2 separate regions of the Homo sapiens genome follow, and region 2 is linked to region 1. The links come from fine-mapping of genetic effects on gene expression. A gene starts in region 1. The other region holds a variant in brackets. All regions are shown on one strand. Distances are from middle to middle. Region 1 holds the start of PPP1R3E (protein phosphatase 1 regulatory subunit 3E). Region 2 overlaps EFS (embryonal Fyn-associated substrate).

The links. PIP is the estimated chance that this variant, and not a neighbour inherited with it, causes the effect. A credible set is the group of variants that fine-mapping cannot tell apart.
Region 2: its variant is the best candidate, but not a certain one, in a credible set for the expression of PPP1R3E in whole blood (TOPMed, PIP 0.58).

Annotation. Positions count from the first base shown.
Region 1 is chr14:23,300,705-23,305,093 of GRCh38, reverse strand. PPP1R3E (protein phosphatase 1 regulatory subunit 3E) reads left to right here and starts at 2,235. Exons shown (of 5, transcript NM_001276318.2): 1 at 2,235-2,934; 2 at 3,236-3,796; 3 at 4,230-4,336. The coding sequence starts at 2,518. The coding sequence ends at 3,658. RefSeq lists silencers at 2,449-2,958, 3,039-3,098, 3,109-3,538 and an enhancer at 3,599-3,788.
Region 2 is chr14:23,353,119-23,357,458 of GRCh38, reverse strand. It overlaps EFS (embryonal Fyn-associated substrate), which reads left to right. Exons shown (of 6, transcript NM_005864.4): 6 at 1-1,053. The coding sequence ends at 233. Among named protein-coding and RNA genes, the nearest start is that of SLC22A17, 2.4 kb to the right of the region's middle. The variant G/A (reference allele first, on the strand shown) is at 2,307.

The DNA of each region.
Region 1 (4,389 bases):
CCTGATCATTCTGGCTGCCACCAGCAAGGTTGCCCTCTTCTTTAGAGAATAACCTAGTCCAAGTCTTCATTTGCACTCCTGGTTTATTTGTTTGTTTGTGATACAAGGTTCTCACTCCATGGCCTAAACTGGAGTGCAGTGGTACAAGCACAGTTCACTTCAGCTTCCACCGTCTAGGCTCAAGCAATCTTCCCACTTCAGCCTCCCTGGTAGCTGGGACTAGAGGTGTACTGCACCATGCTTGGTTAAATTCATTTTTTATAGAGATAGGGATCTCATTATGTTGCCCAGACTGATCTCAAACTCCTGGGCCAGCTTGATTGTAACATAAATTAATGTATGATTTATTAGACATTAATTTATATGCATTATATATATTATATTGTATATGCATATACAATATATACATTGTATATATTGTATCACATATAATGATACGAAGAGAATACATCCATGCATTCTATATACGTGTAAAATTTAAAAAGTCAATATTGCTTTAAAAATGAGTCCTAGCTAACTAGTATTGCTACAGTCAATACTAGTGCGAATGCATGTAAACAGGAATGAATTGTATAATAATAAGATAACATGTGTCTCATGGTTTATTTTCAACTTAGTCACTTGTGGTTTTACAGTTAAACTATCCTGCTGCTTTAAATTTAGAGACTTCATTTCTACTCTAATATTCCCTCTTTTAACACTCTGAGGATGTTAACTATTATTGTTAAATGTTTTAATCTTATATAACCAAGCGGGTAAGAGCGTGGACTCTAGAGCTAAACTGTTTAGGTCCTAATCCCACCTCCCCAATTATTAACTATGTGACCCTGGGTAAGAGTCCTCTCCCCTCTCTCCCTCAATTCTCTCATCTTTAAACTAGACATAATAGTCTCTATTCCTCTGATGGTTGTATTACATGGGTTAGTATTTGTAAAACCCTTACAACAGTACCTAGCACATTGTAAGTGCTATATTAGATCAGTAGGAAAGTTAGAAAAAAACTAAAAACAACTTCACTTTTTTTTTTCACTAATGTTAAAAAAAAAAAATGAAAGGGGAAAAAGCCAGCTCTGCCCTTCTTGGAAGCTCCCACTGGACCTATAATTCCACAGTCCCAACTCCAAGAGAGTTGTTGGGTGCTTGTTCATTCAATAATTTGAGTGCCTACCATATACTAAAACTCACCATGAATCAGACAAAGCCCCTGCCCTCAAAGGGCTTACACTTGGATTAGAAATCAGAACTCCACCACTTTTTTACAGATAAGAACACTGAGTTCAGAGTATGGCTCTGAGTTCAGGGGTGGCTCACACCTGTAATCCCAGCACTTTGGGAGGCCGAGGCGGGCAGATCACCTGAGATCAGGAGTTCAAGACCAGCCTGGCCAAGATGGTGAAACCCCGTGTCTACTAAAAATACAAAAATTAGCCGGGCGTGGTGGTGGACGCCTGTAATCCCAGCTACTCAGGAGGCTGAGGCAGGAAAACCGCTTGAACCGGGGAGGCAGAAGTTGCAGTGAGCCGAGATCACGCCACTGCACTCCAGCCTGGGCGACAGAGCGAGACTCCATCTCACACTCACACACACACACACACACACACACACACGAGAACACTGACTCCAGAGAAGTTATGCCTTGCTTGCTCAAGGTCACTAGAAGCTAGGTCTTCCTGCAGTTCTCAGTTCGGGTGCCATATTCTCACCTTCTATTTGAAAGACTCTACCTAGCTTTCATGACCTTTCCTTCTTTGCACGCACCACCACCCCCTGCCCAAACCAGGAGCCTAGGTTTCAGAAAAGAAAACAGTGAACCCCAAAGATAAAGTCACATGCTGGGCGTTTTGAACCTTCCCCTGCAAGAAAATGAAAGGTTATTTTTTCTTCCCGGCGTTAACCTTTCCTGTGCTGTGCCGGAAAAGTTGAGGACTTTTTACATTTTATTATTATTATTATTGTAGAGATCAGGGGTCTCACTATGACGCCCAGGCTGGTCTTGAACTCCAGGCTTCAAGCGATCCTCCCACCTCGGCCTCCCAAAGTGCTGGGATTTGAGGCGTGAGCCATCGCGTCCCGTCCGTGGATGTTTTTTTTAAAAGGTTGAGTAGCTTCACTCGGGACCGCAAAGGTGGAGTCCCCGCCCCCTGGTGCAGCAGCGAAGACAAGCGGAGCCACCTGTCAGAGGGCTGTGGGCGGGGGCGCCCGGGCCGTGAGGGCCTTGGAACCGGAGGGTGAGTGCAGTTGAGCGCACGCTCAGAGCAGACCGCTAGCAGGAGGCAGGATGTGATAGTCTAAGACCCTGGAAGCTGACGGCCAGAGGGAGGGAAGGGTGGTCACAGAGGAGAGGCAAAGCAACGGGAGGTGGAGGATCCTGGAGGTGTCTGCAAGGAGAATACACAGCAGCGAGGGGCTGCAGAAGCGGACCCAGCGACTTCTGCGCTGACGCGGGGCGGGCGGGAGAGAGGAAGAGAGGGGAGCGCGGTGGCGCTGCGAGCTGGCCCCGCCGGGGAAGGGGCTGCCATGTCCCGTGAGCGGCCCCCGGGCACCGACATTCCCCGCAACCTGAGCTTCATCGCCGCGCTAACGGAGCGCGCCTACTACCGTAGCCAGCGGCCCAGCCTCGAGGAGGAGCCGGAGGAGGAGCCAGGCGAGGGCGGGACGCGGTTCGGGGCCCGATCCCGCGCTCACGCACCGAGTCGGGGCCGCCGGGCCCGATCTGCACCAGCCGGAGGCGGCGGGGCCCGGGCGCCCCGCAGCCGTAGCCCAGACACCCGCAAGAGAGTGCGTTTCGCCGACGCACTGGGGTTGGAGCTGGCTGTCGTGCGCCGCTTCCGTCCCGGTGAGCTGCCCCGGGTGCCCCGCCACGTGCAGATCCAATTGCAGAGGGACGCCCTCCGCCACTTCGCGCCCTGCCAGCCCCGCGCCCGCGGCCTCCAGGTAGGCGGCGGGGGCACCTCCCCTCCTGGGGACCTCCTCCAGTCGGCCGCAGCGGGCTTGTGGGAGTGGATTTGCCAAAGAGCACCCATCTCCATCCCATCCCTGGGCTTGCGCCTGCCCATCCCTTTTGGGGACCCCATCTGCGAGTGGCTCTAGGCCACCCTGGCAGCTGGGCCGCACTCTGCCGGCCTGGACGCCGGGGTCGGCCTCTGATTGGTCCAGTGCCTTGCTCTGACACCGCCCCCTGTCTCTCCCCTCTCTCCGCCCTGGGCTCCCTCCTCCCGCTTCTTCTTTCCCCCAGGAGGCGCGCGCCGCCCTGGAGCCGGCCAGCGAGCCCGGCTTCGCCGCCCGCTTGCTGACGCAGCGCATCTGCCTGGAACGCGCCGAGGCGGGCCCGCTGGGCGTGGCCGGGAGCGCGCGCGTGGTGGACCTGGCCTACGAGAAGCGCGTGAGCGTGCGCTGGAGCGCCGACGGCTGGCGGAGCCAACGCGAGGCGCCAGCCGCCTACGCCGGTCCGGCCCCGCCCCCGCCGCGCGCCGACCGCTTCGCCTTCCGCCTGCCCGCGCCGCCGATTGGGGGCGCCCTGCTCTTCGCCTTGCGCTACCGTGTGACAGGTCACGAGTTCTGGGACAACAACGGCGGCCGTGACTATGCTCTACGTGGGCCCGAGCACCCGGGCAGTGGCGGAGCTCCGGAGCCGCAGGGCTGGATCCACTTTATCTGAGACGAGGCGCCTGCGGCCGACGGCGGAAAACACCAAAGGCACCCGGGGGCGGGGCGACCCGATGTGGCGGGGAGGAGTAGGAGAGACCAGGATTGGCGGGAGCGGTCCAAGGGAGTCAAGCCGGGGAGGGCGAAAAGGGTGGGGAAATCAGGGGCGTGGGGGCGTGGGGGCGTGGGGGCGGGGGGAGTGAGCGGAACCAAAGAAGCTCCGGGAGATCCGGGTGTTAAAAGCTGGTTGGATGTGAGTGGAAGGAACTCAGAATATAGGAGGAAGGAGACCCGAAACGGCACCGGAGGGATTATAAAAAAAGGAAAAGAATGGGGATGATGGTGGCCTTCCCTTCAGTGAGTGGGCTCTGGGAGAAAGGGAGGAGGTCCATCAGGCCTAGGCGGTTGAAGAAGGTTAAGAACCTTTTGGAGATGGAGGAGGTATGATGTGAAGTAGCCCACCCAGTCGAAGGCATTTACATTGCTGGCGCATTCCCTCTTCTTACCGGCCTTTTCCACCTCAGATCCCCCTGTCCTACCCATCCTAGCTTTAACTCAGCCATAATTGCCTTGCTTAATCCCAGGAACCTGGCCACTGCTCCTTGGTCCTTGGCATTATGACGGGATTCCCTTGTCACCTCTGACAGTTCCTGGCTGCGGTGTCCGCGGACTGGCTGGGGAGTGATGACAGGTAGCTATCAGAGCTCCAGCCTCCAGGCAGCTTTAGGGATTAAAACGGAGGCC
Region 2 (4,340 bases), 52 kb before region 1:
TGTTTGTTGGGGACACCCTGGGCCGGCTGGCAGCCTCTGCCCCTCTGAGAGCACAGGTCAGGGCTGCAGGTACAGCACTGGGCCAGGCATTGCGGGCCACTGTGCTGGCTGTCAAGGGAGCTGCCCTGGGCTACCCATCCAGCCCTGCCATCCAAGAGATGGTGCAGTGTGTAACAGAACTGGCAGGGCAGGCCCTGCAATTCACTACCCTGCTCACTAGCCTGGCTCCATGAAGGTCCTTTGGCACAGCTCTGCTCCTCCCCTGCCTGCCAAAGCCCCCCTTTAGGCCTTGGGTGGCTGGAAGGCTTTGTTAAGGGACTAGGAGAAATGGGGGTATCTTTCCCCTTTCCTGCCCTTTCTGCTCATCTCAACCTCTCACAGAGGTGTCTTCTCCCCCTAACCTACAGCTTTTTGTACAAGCCATTTTGTGTAAATTATTTATATTTAATATTATTCCCTGCTTTGTCAGGAGCAGGTACTAGGCTCTGGGGCAGTGAGGAACTAGATCCTTCTCTCCTCAGCCTAGGGTGGAGGTCACTGCACTACCACCCACCTCTGGAAGACTGGCTGTGAAAAGTCAGGTGGCAGAAACCTGGGGCCACATAGAGCCTCTCTCTTTTCCTGTTTCTTGGCTCTAGAAGATCAGCACTGCACTGTTAGCTGAGAGTGCGGGCAAGACATAAACTGTCCAGAGTTTGAAGGTTCTCGGAAAGACCGGAGGGCTTCTCCCCACAGAAGGCGGAGAGAGCTGGGGCTCAGACATGGGTGTGCACCTTAATAAACCCTGCTGTCTGCCTCCCTGACTCTGCTTCTTGGGAGCATGGTGAGCAGCCCTGGTGCTCAGCAGCCATACCTATGGGACACACACTACGAAAAGGATGCCTTTAGGGTTTGGGGGAGATTTTACTCCTTTCTTCAACAACTATTCACTGGACAAGTTCTCTGCTCCCATGACGCGCCAGGCACAGTTCTGCAAGTATATTGTGAATGTATTGTTCTAGTGGGATACACAAATAAGTCAGTTAAAATACATAAATAAAAACATAAACCTGCCATAGATTCGACATTTGCTGGTGATGGACGTCGGCAGGATGATTTGAAGAAACTAACTAGATGAGGGGAGAGGGCAGTGAAGGAGACTTTAGACAGGATGGTTGGGAGGTGAGATCTGAACTGAAACCCAGAGGAGGAGAGTCTGAGGACTAGTGTTCCCAGAAGGCAGATGCCGATGACTGACCTGAGGGCCTTCCTCCAAGACTTCATTGTCATATGATGTCATTAGAGAGGTGTCAATGTGGAGAGAAGCTGACCACATAAGGGCCTTGAAATGTGCCATCCTGGAGAGGCCACCCCAACTAAAGGCCCAGCCTCAGCTTTGCACCACAGGATAGCCCTGGCCAACTGGAGACTGCTGCTGGCCAGTCTAGGCACCCTCTTCCTTAGGTGACACCAAGAGGGTATAGGCCTTTTCACTTGGCTTCCCAGGTAGATCATCTCAGGATGACCTGCTCATCATCCTTCTGGACAAACCATTTTCTGGAGGATCCGCGGTTGCAGATGAATGCAATGTGTTGAAAGGTCAGTCTTCAGGACTTTGGTGAAATTGATAAGACCGTGGCTTAGATAGATCACGCTAGCCATTTACCACAAGGGAAAACATCCAAGCTACAAATCAATTGCTTCAGTTCTGCTTTCCCAAGATATTACCATGGCATGATGACTGGATTGGGGGCATAATCATAGTCTGTTGGCACCCCTGCACATTTGCCTCCTCCCCTTTAGGTTCCTTTCTCATCTCACTCTCAAAGAAAAATGCACTGTCAGATTCTGGGGCCAACAAAATTCACCCCCATGTGTTGAAGTCTATCGTCCATCATCTTCCAAACAGAATTTCAAGAGATTAGCCTGGAATTAGAGGTTTCAATTCAAGTCTCTGATCTGCCATGTAGTTGTGCATCCATGGGTAAATCATGCCAGTCCCTCTGAAGTCCTGGTTTCATCTTCAATATTAGCATGATCATAATGGTCTTACAGGGTTATTGTGAGGACCTAACAAGAAAATGCATGTGAACAGCCCCACAATGTATAAATTAAGTGATTATTATTCCAGGACAGACACAAGGATGCAGACGATAAATCCCCAAGGAATATTGGCTATACAGCACCATAGTAAAACCTGAAGAGATGCTGAAATGAGTTGGGAGAGGGGAAGTGGTAGGAGGCTGCTTGATGCATTAGCAAAGAAATGTTTCGGAGGGATGCAGTGACTCGCACCTGTAATCCCAGCACTTCGGGAGGCTGAGGCC[G/A]GAGTACGGCTTGAACTCAGGAGTATGAGGCCAGCCTGGGCCACACAGTGAGACCCTGTCTCAACAAAACATCAAAAAATTAGCCAAGTGTGGTGGCACATGCATGTAGTCCCAGCTATTCAGGAGGCTGAGGTAGGAGGATTGCTTGAGCTGGGGAGGTGGAGACTGCAGTGAGCTGTGATCAAGCCACTGCACTCCATCCTGGGTAAGACAGTGAGACCCTGTCTGAAGAAAAGAGTTTCCCATACGTGGAAAATTTCTGAACAGAGACAAGTTAAAAGTGTGGTTCAGTGGAGAGAAGGGGGAAAGATTTCCCGGCTGACAATGATAGAACACTGCTTTCTAGCCCTTACCTAGGATTAGAGAATAAAGTACCTATCAGGTAACAAATCTCTTAGAGATGTGTGTCTCTACCTTTAATGTATAATACCTATGCCTGGAGATCTGGATAAAATACAGATTATGATTCAAGGGTCTGGGTGAGGCTTGGATTCTGCATTTCTAACAAGCTCCCAGGAATGCTGCTGGTCCATGAACCACACTTTGAGTAGCAATTCTAGAGGTTAGGGAAGACTCCTGTGTAGCAAAGATGTTTAGGCTGAGAGCTGAAGGATGAGAAAAATGTGACTAAGAAGCTTTTTAGGTGCAGGAACCAGCTTGTTCAAAGGCCTCGTGGCGCTGGGAAAACTAGAAGAAGGTCTGTGGCTGGAGTGCAGAGAGTTTGGGGAAAGAAGTGAGATGGAACTACAGACAGCATGTGACCAGGCATGTAGAACCATGTATGAGGTATCTAGATTTTTAATATTCACTTTGACAGTGAGGAGACACCACTGAAGGCTGGTTAGCAGGAAAGATACATGATCAGATCTGTATTTTGAAAAGATCATTCTATCTGACTATAAATGACATATGGGTGATAAGGAGGTATAAACAAAGCGGACGCTGAACACCAGTTAGGAATTAGGGAGCTAAAGTGGTCTTTGCAACAGGTAGCTTGACTAATAATGGTAGAGATGGAGAGATGTGGGATGTCTGAGAATATATAGGAAGTAAAATGGGCAGAATTTTGTAAAGAATTCAACATGGATAAGGAAGAGAAAGCTCTAAAGGCTGTTGCCTGAGCATTTGGCCACAATGCGATGTTGAGGGTGCCATTCGCTGCAGAAAAAAGCAGTGGAAGCCAACCAAGTTATGGGGGAAAAGCAAAAATTTCGTCTTGAACATATTGAGTTTGAGGTCCCTGTGAGTCATCCAAGGTGAAGGTCAAATAAGAGGTGGCTTCATAGGTCTGGAGCTCAGAACAGAGGTGGAAGCTGGAGATGTCAGTCTGGGCGTCAGGTTTGTATTGTTTGTATGGGTGGTGATTGAAGCTGTGGGCATAGGTAAGATCCCAAAGTGGAGACAGTGTGAGATGAGAGGAGGGCCTAGGACTAAGTCTGTGAGGATTCCAGACACTGAACCATGGTGTCTAAATGATACAGACGGGAATGGCCCTAGAAGCCAGCACCACAGCCTCATCACTACCAATACAGACCCCTCCTGCAGTTGCGTCACCCCGCTGGACTTCAATCATTGCCTCAAGAACCGGGAGGATAATGGCCTGCCCATGCTCAGCACCAATGCCATGAGCTGGAAGACGATTTCTGCAATGGAGAAAAGGGGAGCAAGAGAGACTCAGCAGCAAAGGAAGAGAGTGTTTAGAGGAAGAGGGGTCAACAGTGCCAAATGCTGTTGAGAAATGGAGATTCAAACAGGATGGGAGTGATGAAACCCAAGAAAGTGGTCTCCTTGTAGAGGACTGAAGCTAGGGCTGATACAGGGCCAAGACAGTCTTCCATATGCATAAGTTGTACTGTAATAGCCAGTTTACATGTCTGTCTCCCTGGAGTAAAGGTCTCCAAAGTGGAACTTGTCCACCCTGTTATCCTTAAAGTCTAGTGCAAGTCCTGGAACGTAGTGGACACTTAAATTTTACTGATTAGTGAATGGGTGAATGAATGAATGAATGAATGATGGCAAATGATTGGAAGCAGA